Linked DNA regions of Homo sapiens. The protein of the gene in region 1 interacts with the protein of each later gene in a biochemical or structural test. Each region holds a gene or a part of one and is shown on either strand. Other genes may lie near its edges.

Region 1 (16,884 bases):
TATGAGGCACTAATCAAATTCATGAGAGCAGAACCCTCATAACTTAATCACTTCCCCAAATGCCAACCTCTTAATACTGCCACCATGAGGATAAAGTTTCAACGTGAATTTTGGAGGGGACACCATTATTCAAACCACAGGAGGGGCTATGGGTAGTAAGTAGAGTTTTCTCTGAAAGGGGTATAAATTATACATTGAGGGGAGAGAGCCTCTTAAACAGTATACTAAAGTGCAGAAGGCAGGCCTTGTTCCAGTGAAAGAAGGGACTCCAAACTCTCGCTATGCTTCATTTCCTTTGGTCTAGAGCAGTGGTTCCCAAACAGGGATTGAAGGGGCCAAGGAGTAAGTTGAAGACATTGCTATGAATCCAAATATGTAATCCACCAAGCATTATCTGTAAAATGAGTATCTCATACATATATGTACTATTATTTAAAAATACACTTTGCTACTTAATTTCATAATTCTTTTAAATGAATTTGTAATTTTTTAAATTAATAGACTTTGTTCATTATATATTTCCTCAAATATATAAACAGTATGCACATAAAAGTATGCCTACTATCAAAGGACTTTGAACAATTTGGGGGCAATAGGGAAGCCTGACATTTTAAAATCCTGAGAACTTCTGATCTTGACTTCAAAAGGGGCAAAAGTCTACATTTGGGGTCCTTTAGAAACAGCAAGCTAGGAACTAGTTGGGTTGGGAGTCACATATGTCGGAGAGACCAAGTCATATCTTGTCAGCAGGATATCTCGAAGCAAGTTAACCTCTGTTTTCTTTTTACCCCCGGGCTTCAGTGCAGCCCTGTATAGGTATTCTTCTGGAGCAATCATTCTCAAACTCTGGGGGGGCACAGGCATCCCCAGGAGAGCTTGCTTAAGTAGTCTCCTGGGGCCCCAACACCAGAGATTCTGATTCAGTAGTTTGGGGTGAGGCCTTCAAATTTGCATTTCAAAGAAGCTCACACTGGATGCAAATGATGCTGGTGTGAGAACCACTGTTCTAGATTCTTCGCTGCACTCAGCAAACTAAGATAGGCAAATACAGCTCCCGGAACCAGAGAGGCTGACAAATGAATTCCAAAGAGATGCTGAATACTTGGCGATAAGAACTGCTGCTTTGAGATAAAGATGCTCCTCCTTTGTAGAACACAGTATTTTTTGGTTGGAAAGCAATCTGATGAGCAGACTAATGCGAACATTCACAGGATATTCTGGGAGATACCATGCCTTTAATCAAAATAATCAGATTCAATGACAGAATTTCAGAACCAAGGACCATTAGACATTGTGGGGTCTTTCGGGGGAAGCTTTCCTGTATCTCTAAATCATACTATGTAAGTAGAAAGCTTGCTGACTGCTTTTTTGTTAATACGATTTCTTCTAGCTTCCGTAGCCAACTTTTTTTTTTTTTTTTCTGGCTAGGGTTTTCATTATTTTATGTGATTAAGGACACTTTTCTGCCCCAAGTATTGTAATCCTCTCGGCCGGCTCTGTCCAAAAGAACTGTCTTCGATGATAGAAACGTTCTACATATGTACTTTGCCACATAGCAGCCACTAGCCATACATGGTTATGGCACACCTGAAATGTGGCTGGTGCCACTGAGGAATTAAGTTAATATTTAAAATTTAAATCCCAATACTGGACAGCACGGCTAAACCTTTCCTAACCCTTCACGTTTCTTATGAAGATTATATAGCAGGATATTACAAGCACTAAAAAAGAACTATCTTAAATCTGAAGCAAGATGATTTCCCTAACTAGTACGTTTGTTTGGTAAAAGAGGACGTGCTATTTTTTACAGTTAAATCTAATTCGTAAGTTGTAGAACGTTTTCTTAACAAGGTATCCCTCTCCCAAATTCCGGGAGAGGCTGGCTGCCTTTCCTTTTGCTCCAGCGGTTTATTTGGCATAAAATCTGCAGGCTTACAGGAGCTGACACCAGGGCAGAAAAGAATGAGGAATTTGTTTCCAAGTTGGTCACAGGCCGCTAATCTGACCTAGATGATGTTTAAAATAATATTCAAATACAGCACTTTAAAAAACTATGAAGGCTGAGAAGAAAACGAGAAATGGGAAGCAAGAAGGAAGGCGGAGCGTGCCGGCGACTTCTCAGGGGACTTCCTCAGGGAGTCCCATTCCAGTAACCCCGCGCTACCCACGGACCACCGCCTCTCTCTTGTCGGAAGACGCAAGCCCAAGGGGCGGCTCACCTCGTGCCGCGCGCAGGGACCACGGCCGCCGGGTGGTCCCCTGGCCCCGCCCCCTCCCACCTGGGCACCCCGAGCCCCGCCCCCCGAGCGCCCCGCCCCGCCCCGCCGCCGACTTCGCGCCGCGCTCGGGCGCCGAGTCTGCGCGCTGACGTCCGACGCTCCAGGTACTTTCCCCACGGCCGACAGGGCTTGGCGTGGGGGCGGGGCGCGGCGCGCAGCGCGCATGCGCCGCAGCGCCAGCGCTCTCCCCGGATCGTGCGGGGCCTGAGCCTCTCCGCCGGCGCAGGCTCTGCTCGCGCCAGCTCGCTCCCGCAGCCATGCCCACCACCATCGAGCGGGAGTTCGAAGAGTTGGATACTCAGCGTCGCTGGCAGCCGCTGTACTTGGTGAGTCGCGGACCCACGCGGCAGTCGCCGACCTCCTCCGAGACCCGGACTCGTGCCCTGTCCGCAGGGTCCCTCCCGCCTCCCCCGCCTCTCGCCTCTAGCCTCTCGCTCGGGGCGGAAGTGGCGGCGCGGTCCGCGTCAGGGGCGCGCCTGCGCTGACCGCTCTCTTGCTCCTTTTGGTTTAAAAAAAAAAAAAAAAAAAGCATACTTGAGCTGAGCAGCTCATGGTTAGCGCAAGCGCAGTTAGTTCTGGAGGGCGGTGCCACAGCGGCTTCTTGGGGAGCGCGTGGATGCGCCACCAGCGTTGCGCGGCCCGGGTCTGGGGGTCCTTGGGAAAGCCGTGGGGGCGCTCGGGCGCGCGCCCCCGGGCCGCAGCTTCGCCGTAGCTCCCACGCCGCTGTGCTTGGTTCTTGCTCGCGGACAGCTCTTTCTCTGGCCGGGTGTTTTGTGGCCGGGTGGGCAGCTGGCGTCCCCGGGAGCGGTGAGGGCGGGGGCGGGCGAGCCGGGCCGCGGCGTCCGGGTCCAGCTGGCGCCCGCGCAGGACCTGTGGGAGCAGGCCGCTCTGGGCGCCGGGCCGGCCGCCGCAGCCCTCTGCGAGGCGAAGCTCGCTCTCCTGGCGGAGCCGCGGTGGTTGGGGGTGGCTCGTGGCCTCTGGCGAGGGCAGCGCTCTCGGGACCCTCCGTCTTCATTTTCCCCCGTGGCCCAGCAGCGCCCAGCGTGGGTTCGGCCCCCATAGAACCTTCCCGGAACGAAAGAGGCTTTGCTTGTGTTCGTCCAGTGATAGCGTGTCATTCTCTTTATAGTTTTCCTTACTGAGGTATACTTTCCCTACAGTGAAACGCAGCTTTCATGTGTGCTCCCAGACGGGTGTCACAAATGAATCCCCTCTTGCAAGCCCCCTCAAATCAAAATAGCCTTTCCTTGCCCTGAGAAAGTGCCCTCATCCCCTCCCCGGGGGCACGGTGTTCCGATGCCTATCGCCCTAATCGTGCCTGTTCAGCTCACATAGATGCAATATGTAGTATAAACACCTGTGATTCGCTTTTTTTATGTCAACTAGACTACCTTTTAATTCAAACAAAACTTTATCTCTTTTAAAATGATGTAACTGCTTTCCCCTTCGTTTAATCCTTGTCGTATTATTCCCAAGATTGAATTTGGTGACGGTTAAGTTAATGCTGCTTCTGATGTTTGGTTCTCTCTGTGTAAAGTAAAAGACGGGCTTTCCTGTAAATGGATGATCCTGGGTTTTTCCCCTTTCCATTTAATTAGATGGCAGTGAAAAATGTGTTCAGAAAGTAACGTTTTCTTCTTGAACACATTAGTGGGAAGTATAAATATTCTGATTCCCATGATACAGAGTATGTTAGAATAGGGATCTAAGTTTTAAAGAATGCTGGTAAGGACTCTTCCAATTATAGACAATCTGAAACGCAAATTCTGGTAGGAATCTTCATGTGAGAGAGCCTGCCAGCTGCATCTTCTCCAGTTACATTTGTTTTAGCAGAGGCTGCTGTCTCTCTAAGGGATAGGTTATATATCGAAATAGATTTGAAAAGAGAAAAGTGAATATAACTTAATTCAGCTTAACATTTTGGTTTAAGAAATTTAATTTTCTTTGGTATCATTAATATCCTTGAAAATTCAATGAGAATTGTGATTCCTCTTTCCAGAAAAATGAACTTAACTCGCATCCACTGGAGATTTCACATGCATTTTCAAAAAGATAAGGAAATCCTTCTATAGATTCTTACCGAGGAATCCTGTAGTTTCCTTGGTTGGTCAATGCTCATATTATTTTTTCCTAGTTGAAAACAAGACCATTAGTTTGGTCAGTAGAAACCATGGCATGCACACTGGTGTTACAGTAAAAGTAGGTCACAAACCAAGAAAGTTAGTAATGGAAAGCAAGTCAGGAAGTTTGAGCTATGTGTTCTCCTGTGGCCTTAGAACATCCATTCAGCCATTCCACAAATATGCCCGGACCCCCAGTGGAGTTGCAGCTTTTGCTCCTGGCCTTGGGGATTCAGCAGAGAATGCTCCTGGCAAGTTTCCTACCCTCGAGGTGCTCACTCTAGGGCTTATTCTTTTGGGGCCTCATTGTAGTTCCATATTTTCATTCATTCGTTCATAACATGCTTGTTATGTGCTAGTGTTAGACACTGAGGATTCTTGTTAAAAGACAGGAGTCCCAGTTTTTAAGGATGCAGCCCTGTAAATAGGTAAGCTGATGAAAACGTTAAAGTGATACATGTAAAGCTAGCTTGAAGCACAGGGTCTTGTGGAGTTGAGTTACCTAGGAGTCCTGTATTTCCCAAAAAGGGGTACACATGGGAGTTCTGGTGAAGCTTCTCGAGGGAGGGAGGACCTCACCTAAGTCTTGAAAGACATTGGCCAGGGGAAGAGGACAAGGGAGGTGAAGAGAATTACTGTTCCAGCAAGGAGGGAGTGCACAAAGGCACTGAGGGAATGCTGAGAGAACCACCCACAGTTTAGCCTGGAGACTGGTGTGAAGTTGAGATGCTGGAGAGTAAGGCAGAGCCTAGATCAGACTAAGGAATTTGAGCTGTTTAATAGGAACTCATTGTGGAATTGTAAGTCTGGAAATACCATGATCATATTTGCTTCTTTTTTTTTTGACAGAGTCCCGCTCTGTCGCCCAGGCTGGAGTGCAGTGGTGCGACGTCAGCTCACTGCAACCTCTGCCTCCTGGGTTCAAGTGATTCACTTACCTCAGCCTCCTGCGTAGTTGAAATTACAGGCACACACCACCATGCCCGGTTGATTTTTTTGTACTTTTAGTAGAGACAGGGTTTCGACATGTTGGCCAGGCTGGTCTCGAACTCCTGACCTCAGGTGATCCGCCTGCCTCGGCCTCTCAAAGTGCTGGGATTACAGGCATGAGCCACTGCTCTGGGCTGATCATATTTACTTGTTAGCAAGATCGTTCTGACTGCTAGCAGACTGGATGAGGAAAGTGTAGGCACGCAGCACAGGGCAGTAGTCGGTTGGAGTAAACCTGAAGAGACATGATGAGCTTCTGTTAGGCAGTGGCAGGAGGGATGGAGGGGAGATACAGATTTGAAATGAAATGGTAAAGGGGTATACGTTATGTACAAGTTTGGTTTTGAAACTTTAATTCTGTTTGAGGTACCTGCGAGACACTGAAATGAAGCTAGTTGAATGTATAAATTTGGAGTTCGGGAGAGAGGGTCTGAGTAAATGTGATTTTGGAAATCATGAACACATGGGTGATATTTGAGGTCTTAGACATTGATGAGATCATCTAGGGAAGATACAGAGCGTTTGGAAATATCAAAGGCCAAGGACAGAATCTTGACAGACAACATTTAAAAGGATGGGTGGAGAAAGAGGAACTTGCAAAAAAGACTGGTGAGGAACAACCACAGAAGTGGGGAGGAAAGCAGTGGAGGGAGTTGAGGGTGAGCAGGGCCACCTGACAGGTAAGGGCCAGCCTGAGAGGGCCATGACATTGAGCAGCTAGATTAACAGATACCTTAAAGGGAGTTGTGTCAGCGGACTACACAAGACAGATACCTGGAGTTCAGGAGAGAAGGTAGGAGGAAATGCAAACTACCAAGTGTACACTGCTCTTTTTAGAAGCCCAACTTGAAGAAGTGGGGAGAGGTAGCTAAAATGAAGCAAGATTGTGTGACTTCTCACTTAAACCCTTGAACGGCTTTCCGTTGCTCACAGTGTAAATTCAGCCCCTCCTCCGGCTCACAAGACCTCATGGCCTGTGTCTCTTGCTTGATTTCCCCTATCACTTTCCTCCCTCTTTTCCACTGTGTTGTATTCTTGGAAGTGTGTGTGTCCATTCTCCCCTTAGGGCGTTTGTAAATGTTGTTCTCTTTGCCTTGGCACAACTTTCCCCCCTTCTCTTTCCTTTCTTGCTTAAACTGCCTCCTACTCATCCCTGAAGTCTCACTTCCTTGGCAGGCCTTCTTGACCTGCCCATGCTGGGTATGAGCCCCTGTTGCGTACTTCTTTAGCATCCCAAGACTTCCCCTTTCATAGCGGGAATTGGATGTCATACAGCAGCAAATGATTTCGGGAACACAATTTGCATTAAGCAAACCACTATCTTGAAAGTAACACAGCTTGAGTAGGAAAAAAGTGTTTAAGGTGGCTTTCTGCTTTGTTTAGCACAGCAGTGGGTGATGTTTCTGATAATGTTTTTGAAGAGTTGTGCTTTTTTTGGTAATGCTCATGGAGCTGGGAAAAGAAAGGCTTTGCTCTTGAGCAAAAACTGAGTACAACTAAAAGCTGGACTTGCTTAGTGGTAGGAGAACTTGATACCTTGTTGAAATTCTAGCGGGAAAAATGAATTTAGTATTTTGAGTCTGGAACTCTGGTCCCTTATTCCTTTTTGCTCCTTTTGAAAAGTGTCTTTTATTTCATGAGTTTGATAATAGGAGGTTTCTTAGAAATGAATTATTGGGTTGGAGCAGAACAGACTCTGTTAATCTGAGTTTATATTTTTTATTACTTCTTCAGAGTTTCATGAAGGCACTGCCAGTGCTTTGCACAGTATCAGGTGCTTAGTAAGCACTTGAAAATATGTGCTGAATGAATGACTTTTTACGAGGAAAGGGCAACTTGATATATTTATGTGATTGCAGGGATGAACCTAAAGAGAGAGGTGGAGGTTGAAATAGAAGGGATGATTGTTGGAGCCAGAAATCTTAGAAAGCAAGAGTCAATGGGACCAAGAGCACACAGGTGGAAGAATTGATCGTGAAAGAGTGCTGGCCAGGCGGTGGCTCATCCCTGTAATCCCAGCGCTTTGGGAGGCTGAGGTGGGAGGATCACTTGAGGTCAGGAGGTTAGGGCTGCAGTGAGCCATAATTGTGCCACTGCACTACAGACTAGGTGACAGAGTGAGATCCTGTCTCTAAAACAAGAACAGCAAAACAAAGGGTGCAGTTGGAAAAGTTTAATTTGGTCTGATTGTGTGAGGTTAATTCTGACTTTTTGAGTAATGTTCATGATCCCTTTTTGGCTTTTCCTTTTGTCACTGCTGATTGCTGTCTTCATCAGGCTGAGCTTTGAGAAAGGCAGAGAGAAGGAATGGAGTCTGTGTGCCTACTGAGGAAAAGACTAAAACTGGGGAATCGCAAAAGCTATGTTATGGGTTGTTTCTAAGAAGTGATGGCTCAGAAGGAATTTGGCTTATTTATTTTTAAATTCCTTTCTTTTTTAAAGAGTTCTCACTCTGTTGCCCAGTCTGGAGTACAAGTGCAGTGGTGCAATCATAGCTCACTGCAACCTTAAACTCCTGGGCTCAGGTGAGCCTCTCACCTCAGCCTCTTGGAAATTGGTTGATTAATTAGGGTTTATAAACAATGGAACTCCTGACTGACTTCATTTTTCTTTTTTTGAAACCAAGTCTTGCTCTGTCCCCCAGGCTGGAGTGCAGTAGTGTGATCTCAGCTCACTGCAACCTCTGCTCCCCCCAGGTTCAAGCAGTTCTACTGCCTCAGCCTCCCGAGTAGCTGGGATTACAGGTGCCCACCAGCACGCCCAGCTAATTTTTGTATTTTTAGTAGAAACGGGGTTTCACCATGTTTGTCAGGCTGGTCTTGAACTCCTGACCTCAGGTGATCCACCTGCCTCGGCCTCCCAAAGTGCTGCTGGGATTACAGGTGTGAGCCACCACGCCCAGCCACATTTTTCTTTTTCTTTCTTTTTTTCCTTTTTCTTTCTTTTTTTTTCTTTTTCTTTCTTTTCTTTTTGAGACTGGGTCTCACTTTGTCACCCAGTCTGGAGTGCAGTGGCGTGATCTCAGCTCACTGCAGTCTCGACCTCTTGGGCTTTAGACATCCTCCTGCCTCAGTCCCCCACGTAGCTGGGCCTGGCTAATTTTTTTGTATTTTTTGTAGAGACAGGGTTTAACTATTTTGCCCAGGCTGGTCTTCAACTCCTGAGTTCAAGCAATCTGTCCACCTCAGCCTTCCAAAGGCTTAGGATTACAAGCATGAGCCACTGTGCCTGGCCATTTTTCTTTTTTCTTTTTCTTTTTTTGAGACAGTCTTGCTCTGTTGCCCAGGCTGGAGTGCAGTGGCGTCATCTCGGCTCGCTGCAAGCTCTGCCTCCCAGGTTCACGCCATTCTCCTGCCTCAGCCTTCTGAGTAGCTGGGACTACAGGCGCCCGCCAACACTACAGGCGCCCGCCACCACGCCAGGCTAATTTTTTGTATTTTTAGTAGAGACGGGGTTTGACCGTGTTAGCCAGGATGGTCTTGATCTCCTGACTTTGTGATCCACCTGCCTCGGCCTCCCAAAGTGCTGGGATTATAGGCATGAGCCACTGCGCCTGGCCGCCATTTTTCTTTATTAGAAATTTGTAGTTCAAATATTGCTAGAGAACAATTTTTACCATTTGTGAGTCAGCTAATTTTTAGAAGTCAGATATCAAGTGCACACTGTTCTTCTCATACTTACAGCGGGGCAGCCAGTTAGGCAGGTGAATCAAAGCTGTCTTATTCTAAAACACTTCCCTTGCCTACTAGTTACACATTCTCCTGCCTGCTGTCTAATCTCAGTGCTTTTACATGGTTGCACAAACTCTGAATTCCCTTGAAGATTGGCTACTCTCTCACACCTTGGAGTCTTCATGTGTTGGATATACTCCATGCCTACCATATCTATTTGGGAAACATCTTCAAGACTAGACCGTAGTCTCCTTGGGCAAAGTTAAATGCTCCCCCTTCTCTCATTTCTTAGTTCTCTATATTCTTTTATTAGAATATGAACCACATTGTTTTGTAACTGTCTACTTGTCTGTTCTGTGTAGCTCCTTGAGGGTGGTCTTTTTTTTTCTTTGTTTTCCCACCACCTACCTACGGGACCTGAAACATGTTAGATGCTCAGTAAATATTCAGTAAACACAGGAAAACTGTTCCCTTTTAAAATGTCAGCACCTTAGTTTATTCCAAACCCCTCATTTATGGCTGAGGAAACACTGGGCCAATACAGTGTTGTGACTTATCTGATGTTACAATATCTGCTAGTGTCATAACTGGGACTCAAATCCAGTCCTTCTGATTCTCGTTTCAGCACTGCCCTAATTTACCCATGTGACTACCTGTAGTGCTTTCTTCTTATGATCTATTTGAGATCAGTGGCACAGAGGGAATCGTCTTAATTTTGATGGCTAGGAGGGAGTGGATGTGTTATAATAGGTAGGGTCATTTTGGGACTTGAGGCCTTTAAAACAGTGTCTGGGATCCAGGGATCAGACTTGAAAGGTATTTGCAAATCTCCTGAAACTGCTAAATTTTATGTACGTGTGTTCCCAGGTATTTCGTTTCTAGGTGATTCTGTAGCTTTTGTCAGTTTCTTAGTGGATTTGTCTGTGATCCCTCAAAAGGTAAAGACCACTGCTTGAAGGGAAAGCAGCCTTGGGATGGGTGCCCCAATGGGGAATGTATACCTAGAAATCATATTGTTTTGCCTTTGACATGTGTTTATAGATTACTGATATCTATAATTACGGAAATCCAGATAGTTGCGTTTGTCTCCTAGCTTTTCTAGTTGCCTCTTTTTTGATTTCTTGATTTTAACCAGAATCTTCTTTTTTTCTTGAGAAGGGGTCTCATTCCGTCACCCAGGCTGGAGTGCAGTGGCACGATCGTAGGTCACTGCAGACTCAAAACTCCTGGCTCAAGTGGTCCTTTGCCTCAGCCTCCCGAGAAGCTGGGACTACAGGCACACACCACCACGCCTGACAAATTTCTTCTTCTTCTTCTTCTTTTTGTTGTTGTTCTTGTTGGCCAGGCTGGTCTGGTCTTGAACTCCCGGCCTCAAGTGGTCTGCTCACCTTGGCTTCCCGAAGTGGCGAGATTACAGGCATGAGCCACCATGCCCAGCCCTTAACCAGAATTTTGTTTTGTTTTGTTTTTTGAGACAGGGTCTCACTCTGTCACCCAGACTGGAGTGCAGTGATGAGATCACGGCTCACTGCACAGATGCACGCCACCATGCTTGGCTAATTTTTTATGTTTTGTAGAGACAGGTTCTCACCATGTTGTCCAGACTGGTCTCGAACTCCCGGGCTAAAGCGATCTTCCGGCTTCACCCTTCCATAATGCTGGGGAGCCACAGTGCTTGGCCAACCAGAATCTTAAAAGCCCTTTTTACTTTTTCCAGATAGTTACTCTGCAGAGAATTTCTGATTCCCAGTTGGAGAACTGTTACAGCTCTCTCAGTCCCCTGCTGTTCTTTTAGCTACCTTGTCTTTGTCCTCTTACCTGTCCACTCTCTACTCCCCTTCTTCCCTTTGGTCTCCAAATAGTCCAGATAAACCAGAGAGATGGACAGATAAGGTCTGGGTACGCGAAATTAAAATTAACATAGTGTGCTCTTCACTTTCTTGAATAAACGTTACGTATGATTTGTTTCCCTTGGAAATCCTCATCTAGATTCTCTACTCTCTATTCCTTAACTTAATGCCCCATTAAGGTAGTTTTTTCTTAATGGAAAGCTGTTGAGAGTCAGAGGATATTTAAACCAACTAATAAACTGAACTTTTAATAATACCACCCTTACTTTGGATAAGAGTGATTAGCCATATACTAAATCCTCAATCAGTTTAGCATGTAAAATTTAAGACATAGCAGCTGATAACTGAGGAAGAGATACATTTCCACAGGCTAACTTTAAAGAATATAAGCTCTCACTTTCCTGAGTAGAAGAAAACTAAACTTTTCTGTTCTATGCTTTTTTTTTTTTTAATTTTTATTTTTATTGATCATTCTTGGGTGTTTCTCACAGAGAGGGATTTGGCAGGGTCATAGGACAATAGTGAAGGGAAGGTCAGCAGATAAACAAGTGAACAAAGGTCTCTGGTTTTCCTAGGCAGAGGACCCTGAGGCCTTCCGCAGTGTTTGTGTCCCTGGGTACTTGAGATTAGGGAGTGGTGATGACTGTTAACGAGCATGCTGCCTTCAAGCATCTGTTTAACAAAGCACATCTTGCACTGCCCTTAATCCATTTAACCCTGAGTGGACACAGCACATGTTTCAGAGAGCACAGGGTTGGGGGGTAAGGTCACAGATCAACAGGATCCCAAGGCAGAAGAATTTTTCTTAGTACAGAACAAAATGAAAAGTCTCCCATGTCTACTTCTTTCCACACAGACACGGCAACCATCCGATTTCTCAATCTTTTCCCCACCTTTCCCTGCTTTCTATTCCACAAAACCACCATTGTCATCATGGCCTGTTCTCAATGAGCTGTTGGGCACACCTCCCAGACAGGGTGGTGGCCGGGCAGAGGGGCTCCTCACTTCCCAGTAGGGGCGGCCGGGCAGAGGCGCCCCTCACCTCCCGGGTGGGGCGGCTGGCCGGGCGAGGGGTTGACCCCCCCACCTCCCTCCCGGACGGGGCGGCTGGCCGGGCGGGGGGCTGACCCCCCCACCTCCCTCCCGGACGGGGCGGCTGGCCGGGCGGGGGGCTGAACCCCCCACCTCCCTCCCGGACGGGGCGGCTGGCCGGGCGGGGAGCTGACCCCCCCCCACCTTCCTCCCGGACGGGGCGGCTGGCCGGGCAGAGGGGCTCCTCACTTCCCAGTAGGGGCGGCCGGGCAGAGGCGCCCCTCACCTCCCGGACGAGGCGGCAGGCCGGGCGGGGGCTGATCCCCCCACCTCCCTCCCGGAAGGGGCTCCTCACTTCCCAGTAGGGGCGGCCGGGCAGAGGCGCCCCTCACCTCCCAGACGGGGCGGCTGGCCAAGCGGGGGGCTGACCCCCCCACCTCCCTCCCGGACGGGGCGGCTGGCCGGGCGGGGGGCTGAACCCCCCACCTCCCTCCCGGACGGGGCGGCTGGCCGGGCGGGGGGCTGACCCCCCAACCTCCCTCCCAGATGGGGCGGCTCGCCTGGCGGGGGCTGACCCCCACCTCCCTCCTGGACGGGGCGGCTGCCAGGTGGAGACGCTCCTCACTTCCCAGACAGGGTGGCTGCCGGGCGGAGGGGCTCCTCACTTCTCAGACGGGGCGGCTGCCGGGCGGAGGGTCTCCTCACTTCTCAGACGGGGCGGTTGCCAGGTGGAGGGTCTCCTCCCTTCTCAGATGGGGCGGCTGGGCAGAGACGCTCCTCACCTCCCAGACGGGGTCGCGACCGGGCAGAGGCGCTCCTCACATCCCAGACGGGGCGGCGGGGCAAAGGCACTCCCCACATCTCAGACGATGGGCAGCCGGGCAGAGACGCTCCTCACTTCCTAGATGGGATGGCGGCCGGGCAGAGATGCTCATCACTTTCCAGACTGGGCAGCCAGGCAGAGGGGCTCCTAACATCCCAGACGATGGGTGGCCAGGCAGAGACGCTCCTCACTTCCTAGACGGGGTGGCGGCCAGGCAGAGGCTGCACTCTGGGCACTTTGGGAGGCCAAGGCAGGCGGCTGGGAGGTGGAGGTTGTAGCGAGCCGAGATCACGCCACTGCACTCCAGCCTGGGCACCATTGAGCACTGAGTGAACCAGACACCGTCTGCAATCCCGGCACCTCCGGAGGCCGAGGCTGGCGGATCACTCGCGGTTAGGAGCTGGAGGCCAGCCCGGCCAACACAGCGAAACCCCGTCTCCCCCAAAAAAATACGAAAACCAGTCAGGCATGGCGGCGCGCACCTGCACTCGCAGGCACTCTGCAGGCTGAGGCAGGAGAATCAGGCAGGGAGGTTGCAGTGAGCCGAGATGGCAGCAGTACAGTCCAGCTTCGGCTCGGCATCAGAGGGAGACTGTGGAAAGAGAGGGAGAGGGAGACCGTGGGGAGACGGAGACCGTGGGGAGAGGGAGAGGAGGCAGAGGGAGAGGGAGAGGCTTTTTTTTTTTTTTCTTGAGACGGAGTCTTACTCTGTCAACCAGGCTGGAGTGCAGTGGCACGATCTTGGCTCACTGCAACCTCCACCTCCCTGGTTCAAGTGATTCTCCTGCCTCAGCCTCCCAAGTAGCAGGGACTACAGGCATGCGCCACCACACCCAGCTAATTTTTGTATTTTTAGTAGAGATGGGGTTTCGCTGTGTTGGCTGGGCCAGTCTTGAACTCCTGACCTCAGGTGATCCACCCACCTTGGCCTCCCAAATTGCTGGGATTACAGGCGTGAGCCACCGCGTCCAGCCTGTTACATTCTTAATTGGAATAGCATTGCCCTGCAGTGCCATTATCTGAAATAGCTTTTAAGAATGAATGTAATGCCATTTTAAATGTATTTAAATGTTGTGCCGATTTAATGTTCTATGTACGGTACAGTACTACTAATGGTTCAAGAAGTTGTTTTGACTTAACAGTGAAATCCTTGCTTTTAAAGATCATAGATACCTTTAGACACCTTTAAGATGAAACATGTTTATGAGAGGAAATGTCCGCACAAATACAATCCCCCGCAAACTTAGCATGTGGTTTTAGTAGGTTCATAGGCCCACCTGGTGATCCCTAGGATAAGAAATTGTGGTCAAGAAACTGATTTCAGGGGCCGGGCTGGTGGCTTACACCTGTAATCCCAGCACTGTTTGTCTCAAAACAAAGAAACTGGCTCAAGGTTGGATACTTTTCAAACGAGAGGAATGGAGGAAGGGAATGCAATGAATAACTTTTCAAATCCAGTATGTCTGATTTAATATGCCGTTTGCTCTGTCAGTTTCATTTGGTTCGTGTCACTGATCATTTATAACCTTTTTTCAAACTGCTTTCATTCCCCTAAGGAAAATCTGATACTGAATTATTTTATTTCTTCTTTCACTATATTTGAACGGTTTTATAGTCTGAAAGCTATCAATTTCTCATTACAGTTTACTTCATAGTACTTCTAGGAATTCTTCCTGTGGTTTGAGGTAAGGCTACAGGATTCCTAGAGTTTGTACCCCTCTAGTCCCAGTAAAGGACCTGGTACATCAATCAGGGTAGCCCTAGAAAGTTGGAGTAACTTCGTAACAGTGGGAACTGCTTCTGTTCTATGTTTTTTGTGGGTTTTTTATTTGTTTTTGTTTTTTTGTTTTTTTGTTTTTTTTTTGAGACAGAGTCTTGCTCTGTGGCCCCAGGCTGGAATGCTACGGCACGATCTCGGCTTACTGCAACCTCTGCATGCTGAGTTCAAGCGATTCTCCTGCCTCAGCCTCCTCAGTAGCTGGGATTACAGGCGTGCACCACCACGCCCAGCTAATTGTTGTATTTTTAGTAGAGACAGGGTTTCCCCATGTTGGCCAGGCTGGTCTTGAACTCCTGACTTCAAGTGATCAGCCCACCTCTCAGAGAGCTGGGATTATACATGTGAGCCAACATGCCTGCCCTGCCTCATTCTTTATACTACAGTAAAGTCCCGGTTGGGCAATAATCTAAACATAAAAGAAATGAAACCATAAAATTATATAAGAAAACAATGGAGAAAATTTTTTGTAATCAACAGAGTGAAAAAGGATTTTTTAATGCCATGTCACAGAAACCTAGAGAAAAAAGGTTTAAGTTTGATTTCATAAAAATTTAAATTTTTGACATAAATACCATAAAGGTCAAAAGATAAAAAATTTTAAATATTTTCAATATATAACAAAAACTAAACTTTCTTAATATGTAAAGAACTACATATCAAAAAGAGAGCGGAAATACAGATGGCTTTTAAAAACAGGTAAAGCTGTTCACCTTCACAATAATAACAATTTCAAATTATGACTATAATAATACCATTTTTCACCTATCAGACAAAGATGAAAAAGTTCATTAATATAATTGTGTAGGTGAAGCTCAGGCACTTTCTTATATTATTGGTGACAGTATACATTGATATAGCTTCTTTGAAAGGTTATTCATAGCAGCATTATTTATAACAGCTAAAACCTAGAAATAACCTATGTGTCCCATTATAGATGACTGGCTAAGTGATGAATACTATTAAATTGTTAAAAAGAACTCATTATCTATATGGAAGTACTTTTAATATATACTAAGTGAAAAATCAAAGTGCAAAACAGTATGCTAATATCTGTTTTGTGAGGGTGGGATGGATACTTGGATGGAGGAAGACAGACAGGCAGTCTGGCTTATATATGGATAGAATGTCTCGGAAAATATACAAGGCACTGGTTACAGTTATCACCTAAGGGAAAGGATTGAGGGAGAGGAGAATGTGACTTAACTTTTTCACTATATACCCTTTTGTACGGTTTAATTTTTGCCAAGTCCATGTAATCCATGTATACATAGGGAGCATATGTATATAAATATATGTAAATATAAGTAAAAAAATATGTATGTGCTGCCGGGCGCGGTGGCTCACTCCTGTAATCTCAGCACTTTGGGAGGCCGAGGTGGGCGGATCATGAGGTCAGGAGATCGAGACCATCCTGGCTAACACGGTGAAACCCCGTCTCTACTAAAAACACAAAAAAAGTAGCCGGGCGTGGTTGCGGGCGCCTGTAGTCCCAGCTGCTCGGGAGGCTGAGGCAGGAGAATGGTGTAAACCTGGGAGGTGGAGCTTGCAGTAAGCCAAGATCGCGCCACTGCACTCCAGCCTGGGCAACAGAGTGAAACTCTGTCTCAAAAAAAAAAAAAAAACAACACGCTTTTCTCTCTCTCTCTCTCTCTCTCTCTCTCTCTCTCTCTATATATATATATATATATATACACATATATATATACGTATATATATACATATATATACGTGTATATATACATATATACGTATATATATGTATATATACACATATATATACACATATATATGTATATATATACATATATATACACATATATATGTATATATACACATATATATGTATATGTATATATATACATATATATATATATGCTAAAGTTAAGTACTGGATTCCTATCTGTATCTGCTACCTAACTGCAGTATAAATCTTGGAAGTTGAGTCTGTTTTCTCATTTGTAACCACCTCTTAGATAACACACATAAAAGCACATAGCACATGCCTGACACACAGTAGGGTTCAGTGACAGTGAGCTGTTTTAGTCTCTAAACTCTCTTCCTCAAAGAGAGCTTCTCAAAGAAAAAAAAATGTAGTGAAGAAAAGAACTTACTCCACCAGGGATCTTCTCTCCCCAGCCAGTGGCAGGCATATTAAGGGCTATAAGTAAGTGGTTATTTTACCATCCTAAAGTAATGGTGTTTCAAAGTATGCAAGATTCTTCATACTTCACTGTGTCCTTTTCTGAGCATCTTTGTAGAGAGTATATGCACAAACATCTGACTAACAAAGGGAACACTTTTCATCATATAATTTAGGATTCACTTAGAGACCTAAAGTA
Region 2 (8,843 bases), on another chromosome or scaffold:
TGGCCTGCATAGACGTTTTATGTTATCCTTGAAGCTAAAAATGGATTGGAAGTTAACAGCGTTTTGATAAATGTACCGTATTTTGGCCAGAGGTGGAACTGAGTTGTGAGGGTGAAGACCAGGGAAAATAAAGTGGAAGACGTGGAAGCACAAAACGTCTCAGAGGCCTGGAACCATTCAGCTGATCTTAGAGTATGCTCACACCCCAGCACCCTGGAGACCGCCTTTGCTGTAAAAAATTGGTATCTCTTTTTTTTTTTTCCCTGAGACAGAGTCTTACTCTTGCCCAAGCTGGAGTGCGGTGGCGCCATCTCAGCTCACTGCAACCTCTGCCTCCCGAGTTCAAGCGATTCTCCTGACTCAGCCTCCTGAGTAGCTGGGACTACAGGTGCCCGCCACCACGCCAGGCTAATTTTTGTATTTTTAAGTAGAGTTGGGTTTTCACCATGTTGGCCAGGCTGGTCTCAAAATCCTGACTTCAAGTGATCTGCCCGCCTCGACCTCCCAAAGTGCTGGGATTATAGGCGTCAGCCACAGCGCCCAGCCAAGAGACTGATATTTCTACATCCCTTGAATTCCAGTTGCCTTTTTCTTTCTTTTATATTTTCCTTTTTGGTAGAGACAGGGTCTTCCCATGTTGCCAAGGCTGGTCTTGAACTTCTGGCCTCAAGTGATCCTCCTGCCTTGCCCTCCCAAAGCACTAGGATTACAGTCAGAACCCAGTGAGCCCAGCCTCAGATGACTTTTTCTAGTGGAAGGAAAGGTTGTCAACTCGAGAATTCTTTCTCAAAGAAAGCTGGCCAAGTCCTGAGCCCCTCTTGCATTCCATTTGCATACCTCTGTGCTGAAGGAGGGACCCTCCTTTGGGGAGTTTACAGTTGGACGGTCCTTGGGTTGCTCCCTGGCGTGCAGAATGAACCAGTCTGAGCAGTAGAACCACCACACTGCAGGTGCCGTCCCTTTCTAACGTCGGTTTGGCCATATCAAAGTATGATTGTCCCAGTAGCAGGTCTTCAGGTGGCTGGTGCCTGACACAGGTGATGGTAATTAACATGAAACCTAACACCGGCTGTTGATCCAAATTGAGTTAAGATGGCTGGGCACAGTAGCTCACTCCTGTAAGTAATCCCAACACTTTGGGAGGCCAAGGTGTCTGCGTCGCTTAAGCTCAGGAGTTTGAGACCACCCTGGGCTACAGGGTGAAACCCTGTCTCTACTAAAATACAAAAAATTAGCTGGGCGTGGTGGCCGGGCAGTGGTGGCGTGCACCTGTAGTCCCAGCTGCTTGTGGGGCTGAGGTGGGAGGATCGCTTGAGCCTGGGAGGCAGACGTTGCAGTGAGCCGAGATTGTGCCACTGCACTCCAGCCTGGGCGACAGTAAGATTCTGTCTCAAGTAAGTAAATGAGTTGAGATTAACTGGCCTCTTTATTTTGAGGTCCAAATTGAGGTACTGTCATGTGATCAAGGGCTTGTAGCATTCTGAAATTATACCTGATTAGAGGGGTCAAAACCTCCACCAGGTGGCTTGAATTGAGTGAAGGGTGCTCCTGTGTCAGTTCAGGGGACTGGTAAACGAGAAGGCCTGAGCCCTCCCCAGTTACCACCTTCGAAAATAGGGGCCCAGTATTTGCCGTATCTAGTCAGCACCAAGAGAAATCAGAAGTCAAGATTTTTAGATTTCCAATCCGGATTTTTAAAAAACAAACTTTGGCTGGGCATGGTGTCTCATGCCTGTAATCCCAGTATATTGGGAGGCTGAAGCAGGCGGATCACTTGAGGTCAGGAGTTTAAGACCAGCCTGGACAATATGGCAAAACCCCATCTCTACTAAAAATACAAAAATTAGGCAGGTGTGATGGTGCACGCCTGTAATCCCAGCTACATGGTAGGCTGAGGCAGGAGAATCACTTGAACCCAGGAGATGGAGGTTGCAGTGAGCCAAGATCACCCTACTGCACTCCAGCCTGGGAAACACAGCGAGACTCTGTCTCAAAAAAATAATAATAATAACCACCACCAAAAAAACAGATTTTAAAAAAAGAAACTTTGAGGGCAAAACAAAAAGTGTCTACAGGCTGTATTTGGCTCCTGTACTCCCCTTTTTGTCTAGAGTAACGTAATTTGCAGTCATTTGTAAAAATCACAAGAATGGCTATAAGAGAAAACCTGCTACATGATGCTGTTTTGGTGAAAATTGGTATGCTCTTTACCATTGAAACAGTTACCTTTTTCATATATCTGCTTCTCTATTTATAACCACCTCTCTAGTCTACCCTACTGTATCCACTCGCCTGGACTATTGTAGTATCTGCCATCTCCACCAAGCAATCAGAGGCAACTTCTAAAAAACAAATCAGATCGAGGGCTGGGTGTGGTGGCTCATGCCTATAATCCCAGCACTTTGGGAGACTGAGGTGGGAGGATCACTTGAGCCCAGGAGTTCCAGACCAGCCTGGGCAACACAGCAAGACCCCAGTCTGTACAAAAAATAAATTAGCCGGGTGTCGTGGTGCGTGCCTGTAATCCCAGCTACTTGGGAGGCAGAGGTGGGAGGATCGCTTGAGCCAAGGAGGCCGAAGATGCAGTGAGCCGTGATCATGATGCTGCACACCAGCCTGGGCAACAGAGTGAGACTCTGTCTCTAAAATTAAACAACAACAAGAAAAACACATAACCTCCCATAAATCTGATCATGTCATTTCTAAAAGAAAGCTAAACTCTGGCCGGGCGCAGTGGCCGGGCGTGGTGGGATTTACGCCTGTAAATCCCAGCACTTTGAGAGGCTGAGGCAGGCAGATCACCTGAGGTCAGGAGTTTGAGACCAGCATGGCCAACATGGTGAAACCCCATCTCTACTAAAATACAAAAATTAGCCGGGCATGGCGGCATGCGCCTGTCATCCCAGCTACTTGGGAGGCTGAGGCAGGAGAATTACTTGAACCCTGGGAGGTGGAGGTTACAGTGAGCCAAGTTCGTGCCATTGCACTCCAGCCTGGGCAACACAGTGAGACTCCGTCTCCAAAAAAATAATAATAAAATTTAAAAAAAAGAATTGAGTGGGCCAGGTGCCGTGACTCAACCCTGTAATCCCAGCACTTTGGGAGTCCAAGGTGGGAGGATCACTTGAACTGAGGAGTTTGAGACCAGCCTGGGCAACAGGGCGAAACTCCGTCTCTACAAAAAATACAAAAATTAGCTGGGCGTGGTGGTGCATGCCTATAGTCCCAGCTACTTGGGAGACTGAGGTGGATCACTTGAGGCCAGAAGGTCGAGGAGGCAGTGAGCTATAATTGTACCACTGTACTCCAGGCTGGGCAACAGAGCAAGACCCCGTCTGTAAAAAAAGACACAAGTGTGAAGATTGTAGGCTTGGGCTTGACCAAGTGCAACAAGCAGCCATGTCACATCATGGGGGTGGGGAGTGGGGTGTCTGTCTTCTTGGCCTTGATATTTACCTCTGCTACTTTAAACTCCCCTGCAGGTTTTAGAGTTTTTGTTCATTTGTGAAAAAACACTAACTTACCTGATTTGAAGGTTTAATTTTTGTGGCTTTCTGGTAAAGGGAGGTACAACAGGAAATAGAATCTGAAGGAATAAGGGGGACAGCCCCACGCCTTTTTTTTTTTTTTCTTGTTCTTCAGAACATGCTTTACCCTCGCTTGAGGCCAGGAGCTTGAGAAGCCTGGGCAACATAGTGAGACACCATCACTACAAAACATTAAAAGTTAGTTGAATGTAGTGGTGCATGCCTGTAGTCCCAGCTACTTGGGAGGCTGAGGTGGGAGGATCACCTGTGCCTGGGAGTTCAAGGCTACAGTAAGCTATGATCCCACCACTGCTCTCCAGCATGGGTGACAGAGTGAGACTAAAAAGAAAAAGCCATACCCATCCTCTTCATTGCAGGAATGTTAGAATCTGTTTCATGAGTAATAAGGCCTAAGGAACTCCATTTTCCAAATTTGTTTAGGGAGCCCCTCCTCCCTAGATCTCTAGTTTGTAGGGCAGTGAGGCATTTTAAGGAGGTTAATACCTCTTTAGGATGAAAGATGATTAAATGAGAAAATGATGCAGACAGTTGTATACTGAGAATGGTTATGATTTTAAAATACTATTTGCAAGCAAGCCTTAATCTCCTGGAGTTCTTAGCATCCTTCTTATTTATACAGAATCTGAAATACAAGGCAGTTAAATGGAATCAATACCAAATACTAAATTTAGTAAAAGCAAGATTAAAAATGGTACTGTGAATCTGCTATAATTTAACAAGTCATGCCTACAACTTTTCAGTTATATGGCCTGTGGGAAGAACGAAGTGTTTCTTAGTCCTAGATCATATATATATATATATATATATATATATATATATATATATATATATATGAAATTATTATTATTTTTTTGAGACGGAGTTTCACTCTTGTGGCTCAGGCTGGAGTGCAGTGGTGTGATTTTGGATCACTGCAACCTCCGCTTCCCAGGTTCAAGCGATTCTCCTGCCTCAGCCTCCTGAGTAGCTGGGATTACAGGTGCCTGGTACCACGCCCAGCTAATTATTGTATTTTTAGTAGAGACGGGGCTTCACCATGTTGGCCAGGCTGGTCTTGAACTCCTGACCTCAGGGGATCCACCCTCCTCGGCCTCCCAAGGTGCTGGGATTACAGGTGTAAGCCACTGCACCTGGCCAATTTTTTCTTTTCTTTTCTCTTCCTCTTTCTTTCTTTCTTTTTTCTTTTTTTTTTTTGAGAAAGCGTCTTCCTCTGTCATCCAGGCTGGAGTGCAGTGGTGCGATCATAGCTCACTACAGCCTCCAGCTCCTGGACTCAAGCCATCCTCCCACTTCAGCCTTCTGAGTAGCTGGGGCTACAGGCATGTGCCACCATGCCTGGTTGATTTTTTCATTTTGTTTCTAGATGGGGTCTCACTATGTTGCCCAGGGTGGTCTCGAACTCCTGGCCTCAACTAATCCTCCTGCCTCAGCCTCCCAAAGTGCTGAGATTACAAGTGTGAGCCATCATACCTGGCCCTGCTTAGTCTTTTGTTTTTGTCTTTTATGTCTTTCTATGTTGGACTTTTGGGTTGCTTTCACTTTTTGGCTATTGTGAATAATGTTACTACGAACATTTGCATGTAAGCTTTGTGTGGACATCGGTTTTTATTTCTCTTGGGTGTATACTTAGAGCAGAATTGCTGGATCATATGTAACTCCTCTAACCATTTCAAAAAGATCACTTTTTTTTTTGAGACAGAGTCTCGCTTTGTCACCCAGGCTGCAGTGCAATGGTGTGATCTTGGCTCACTGCAACTTCTGACTTCTGGGTTCAAGTGATTCTCCTGCCTCCCGAGTAGCTGGGATTACAGGTGCCTACCACCATGCCCAGCTAATGTTTGTATTTTTAGTAGAGTCGGGGTTTTGCCATGTTAGCTGGGCTGGTCTCCAGCTCCTGGGCTCAAGAGATCCACCTGCCTCGGCCTCCCAGAGTGCTGGGATTACAGGTGTGAGCCACCGCACCCAGCCTAGACACTGTTTCTATAAGACAGAAAGAGAGAGAGAGAAAGAGAAAGTAAGAAACAAAGAAAAAGAAAGAAAAAAGAAAGGAAAGAAAATGAAGCTTTAAGAAGAGACTGTCTGCTTGGTATACCAACCTAATACCAGCACCTAGAACAGCACCTGGCACCTGGCGTAGGGTAGGTTCTTAATGAGTGATTGCTCATTGAATGTGTGGCAGAAAATCTTTAGAATCTTGAATCAAAGGTTTTCAGCACTTGCAATTTTTTTTTTGAGATGGAGTCTTGTTCTTGTCGCCCAGGCTGGAGTGCAATGGTATGATCTTGGCTCACTGCAGCCTCCACTTCTCGGGTTCAAGTGATTCTCCTGCCTCAGCCTCCCAAGCAGCTGGGATTACAGGTGCCCACCACCATGCCTGGGTAATGTTTGTATTTTTAGTAGAGACAGAGTTTCACCGTGATGGCCAGGCTGGTCTTGAACCCCTGACCTCAGGTGATCTACCCACCTTGGCCTCCCAAAGTGCTGGGATTACAGGGGTGAGCCACTGCACCTGGCGCGCACTCATAATTTTTTTTTTTTTTTTTGACAGAGTCTTGCTCTGTGGCCCAGGCTAGAGTGCGGTGGCGCGATCTCAGCTCACTGCAAGCTCCACCTCCTGGGTTCACGCCATTCCCCTGCCTCAGCCTCCCGAGTAGCTGGGACTACAGGCTCCCACCACTACACCTGGCTAATTTAAAAAAAATTTTTTTTTAGTAGAGGCAGGGTTTCACCACGTTAGCCAGGATGACAGTGCTCATAATAATAATAATAATTATTATTATTATTTTTTTGAGACAGAGTCTTGCTCTGTCACCCAGGCTGGAGTACAGTGGCGCGATCTCCGCTCACTGCAAGCTCCGCCTCCCGGTTCACACCATTCTCCTGCCTCAGCCTCCCGAGTAGCTGGGACTACAGGCGCCCGCCACCAGGCCCAGCCAATTTTTTGTATTTTCGTAGAGATGGGGTTTCACCGTGTTAGCCAGGATGGTCTCAATCTCCTGACCTCCTGATCTACCCTCCTTGGCCTCCCAAAGTGCTGGGATTTCAGGGGTGAGCCACTGTGCCTGGCCAGCACTCATTTTTTTTTTTGGGACAGAGTCTTGCTGTGTCGCCCAGGCTGGAGTGCAGTGGCACGATCTCAGCTCACTGCAAGCTGCACCTCCTGGGTTCATGCCATTCCCCTGCCTCAGCCTCCCGAGTAGCTGGGACTGTAGGTTCCCACCACCACACCTGGCTAATTTTTTGAATTTTTTTTTTTTTTTTTTTTAGTAGAGACAGGGTTTCACCATGTTAGGCAGGATGACAGCTTTCATAATTTTTTTTTTTTTTTTTTTGAGATGGAGTCTCACTCTGTCGCCCAGGCTGGAGTGCAGTGGCGCCATCTCGGCTCACTGCCAGCTCCGCCTCCCGGGTTCACGCCATTCTCCTGCCTCAGCCTCCCGAGTAGCTGGGACTATAGGTGCCCACCACCACGCCCGGCTAATTTTTTGTATTTTTAGTAGAGACAGGGTTTTACCGTGTTAGCCAGGATGGTCTCGATCTCCTGACCTCGTGATCCGCCCGCCTCGGCCTCCCAAAGTGCTGGGAATAATCCCACCATGCCCAGCCAGCACTCATAATTTTTTAAGTCATTGTCAACCTGCCCTCCTTCGAGTCTGTTATCCTGAATTCCCTCCCTGGCAATGTTGGGGAAGCTGTGGGTGGTCTGTATTTGCCCTTCAGCCAACTCCAGGTGCAGCACGGCCTCCGTGCTTCAGCCGACTCCAGGTATGGCACGGCCTCTGCCCTTCTACTGAAGTGTACTTACCCATGTTGGGGCTGTGTCTGTACACACATGCAGTGGTCGCTTCTCCGTCCTCCACCGCACCAACCCTCTCAGCAGCGTTTTGTCCTTCCCTGAAACACTTTTGGTCATGATGATGATAGTAGCTGCTGTTGATTCTGATCGACAGCAGCTGGGATGCCCTTAGGATGCTAGTCAGAGAAGAGTAGTCAGAGAAGATTCTGGCTGCTTCTCATACATCGAATCTTCACAGAATCCTGGGAGGGGCCGGGCGCGGTAGCTCATGCCTGTAATCCCAGCACTTTGGGAGGCCGAGGCGGGCGGATCACCTGAGGTCAGGAGTTTGAGACCAGCCTGGTCAACATGGAGAAACCCCATCTCTACTAAAAATACAAAAATTAGCTGGGTGTGGTGGTGCATGCCTGTAATCCCAGCTACTCAGGAGGCTGAGGCAGGAGAAGTGCTTGAACCCAGGAGGTGGAGGTTGCAGTGAGCTGAGATCATGCAGCTGCACTCCAGCCTGGGCGGCAGAGTGAGACTCATGCTCCCTGCGGAAAGTCAGTTGCCTGACGCCGAGCTGGCACCCGGCCTCTGCACACTCTCCTCTCCTTGTGATCGCACCTGTGAGCATCCAGGGGACCGGGAGGGGGAGACAGGGCAGTGGTTAAGAGAGGGGTACGGCTGGGCACAGTGGCTCTTGCCTGTAATCCCAGCACTTTGGGAGGCTGAGGTGGGTGGATCATGAGGTCAGGAGATCGAGACCATGGTGAAACCCTGTCTCTACTAAAAATACAAAACATTACCCAGGCGTGGTGGCGGGCGCCTGTAGTCCCAGCTACTCCGGAGGCTGAGGCAGCGGAATGGCGTGAACCTGGGAGGCGGAGCTTGCAGTGAGCTGAGATTGCTCCACTGCACTCCAGCCTGGGCGACAGAGCGAGACTCCGTCTCAAAAAAAAAAACAAAAAAAGGGGTACACAGCTGGTTTTATAGGGGCAGATGATTTATTTTTTATGGAGATGGGGTCTTGCTATGTTGCCTAGACTGGTCTCAAACTCCTAGGCTCAAACGATCCTCCCACCTCGACCTCCTGAGTAGCTGGGACCACAGGTGTGTGCACCACACCCAGCTAATTTTTTAATTTTTTGTAGAGATGGGGGTCTTGCTGTGTTGCTCAGGCTGGTCTCCGGCTCCTAGGCTCAAGTGATCTCCCCACCTCGGCCTCCCAAAGTACTGGGATTACAGGTGTGAGCCACCACACCTGGCCATCAGGTGTGATTTAGACGTGCCAAGTGGCGAGTAGCAGGAACTCAGTGATGTTAGTGTGTTCCTTGTGATCATGATTCAGCCTAATTTAGAAGTGCTGTGGTCATTGCTGTTTCTCCTCCTCTAGGCTGTGTGGAAATCCGGGGGTTTGTTTCTGCTACCTCCAGTCTGATCATTTGGGCCATGAGCACAGTGAGTTAAGGTGTGCTAGCGTTCACACCTGAGGGGTGTGGAGCTGGCCCATCTGGGAG

The links.
Region 2: the proteins of PTPN2 (region 1) and FAM220A form a complex in vitro, tested with the Homo sapiens proteins (one study listed by BioGRID).

What each region holds. Positions count from the first base shown.
Region 1 is NC_000018.10:12,869,794-12,886,677, reverse strand, and holds the start of PTPN2 (tyrosine-protein phosphatase non-receptor type 2), read left to right. Parts: upstream 1-2,440; 5' UTR 2,441-2,536; coding exon 2,537-2,605; intron 2,606-16,884. UniProt on the Homo sapiens protein: Non-receptor type tyrosine-specific phosphatase that dephosphorylates receptor protein tyrosine kinases including INSR, EGFR, CSF1R, PDGFR.
Region 2 is NC_000007.14:6,338,936-6,347,778, reverse strand, and holds part of FAM220A (protein FAM220A), read left to right. Parts: intron 1-8,843. UniProt on the Homo sapiens protein: Promotes dephosphorylation of transcriptional activator STAT3 by interacting with both STAT3 and protein phosphatase PTPN2.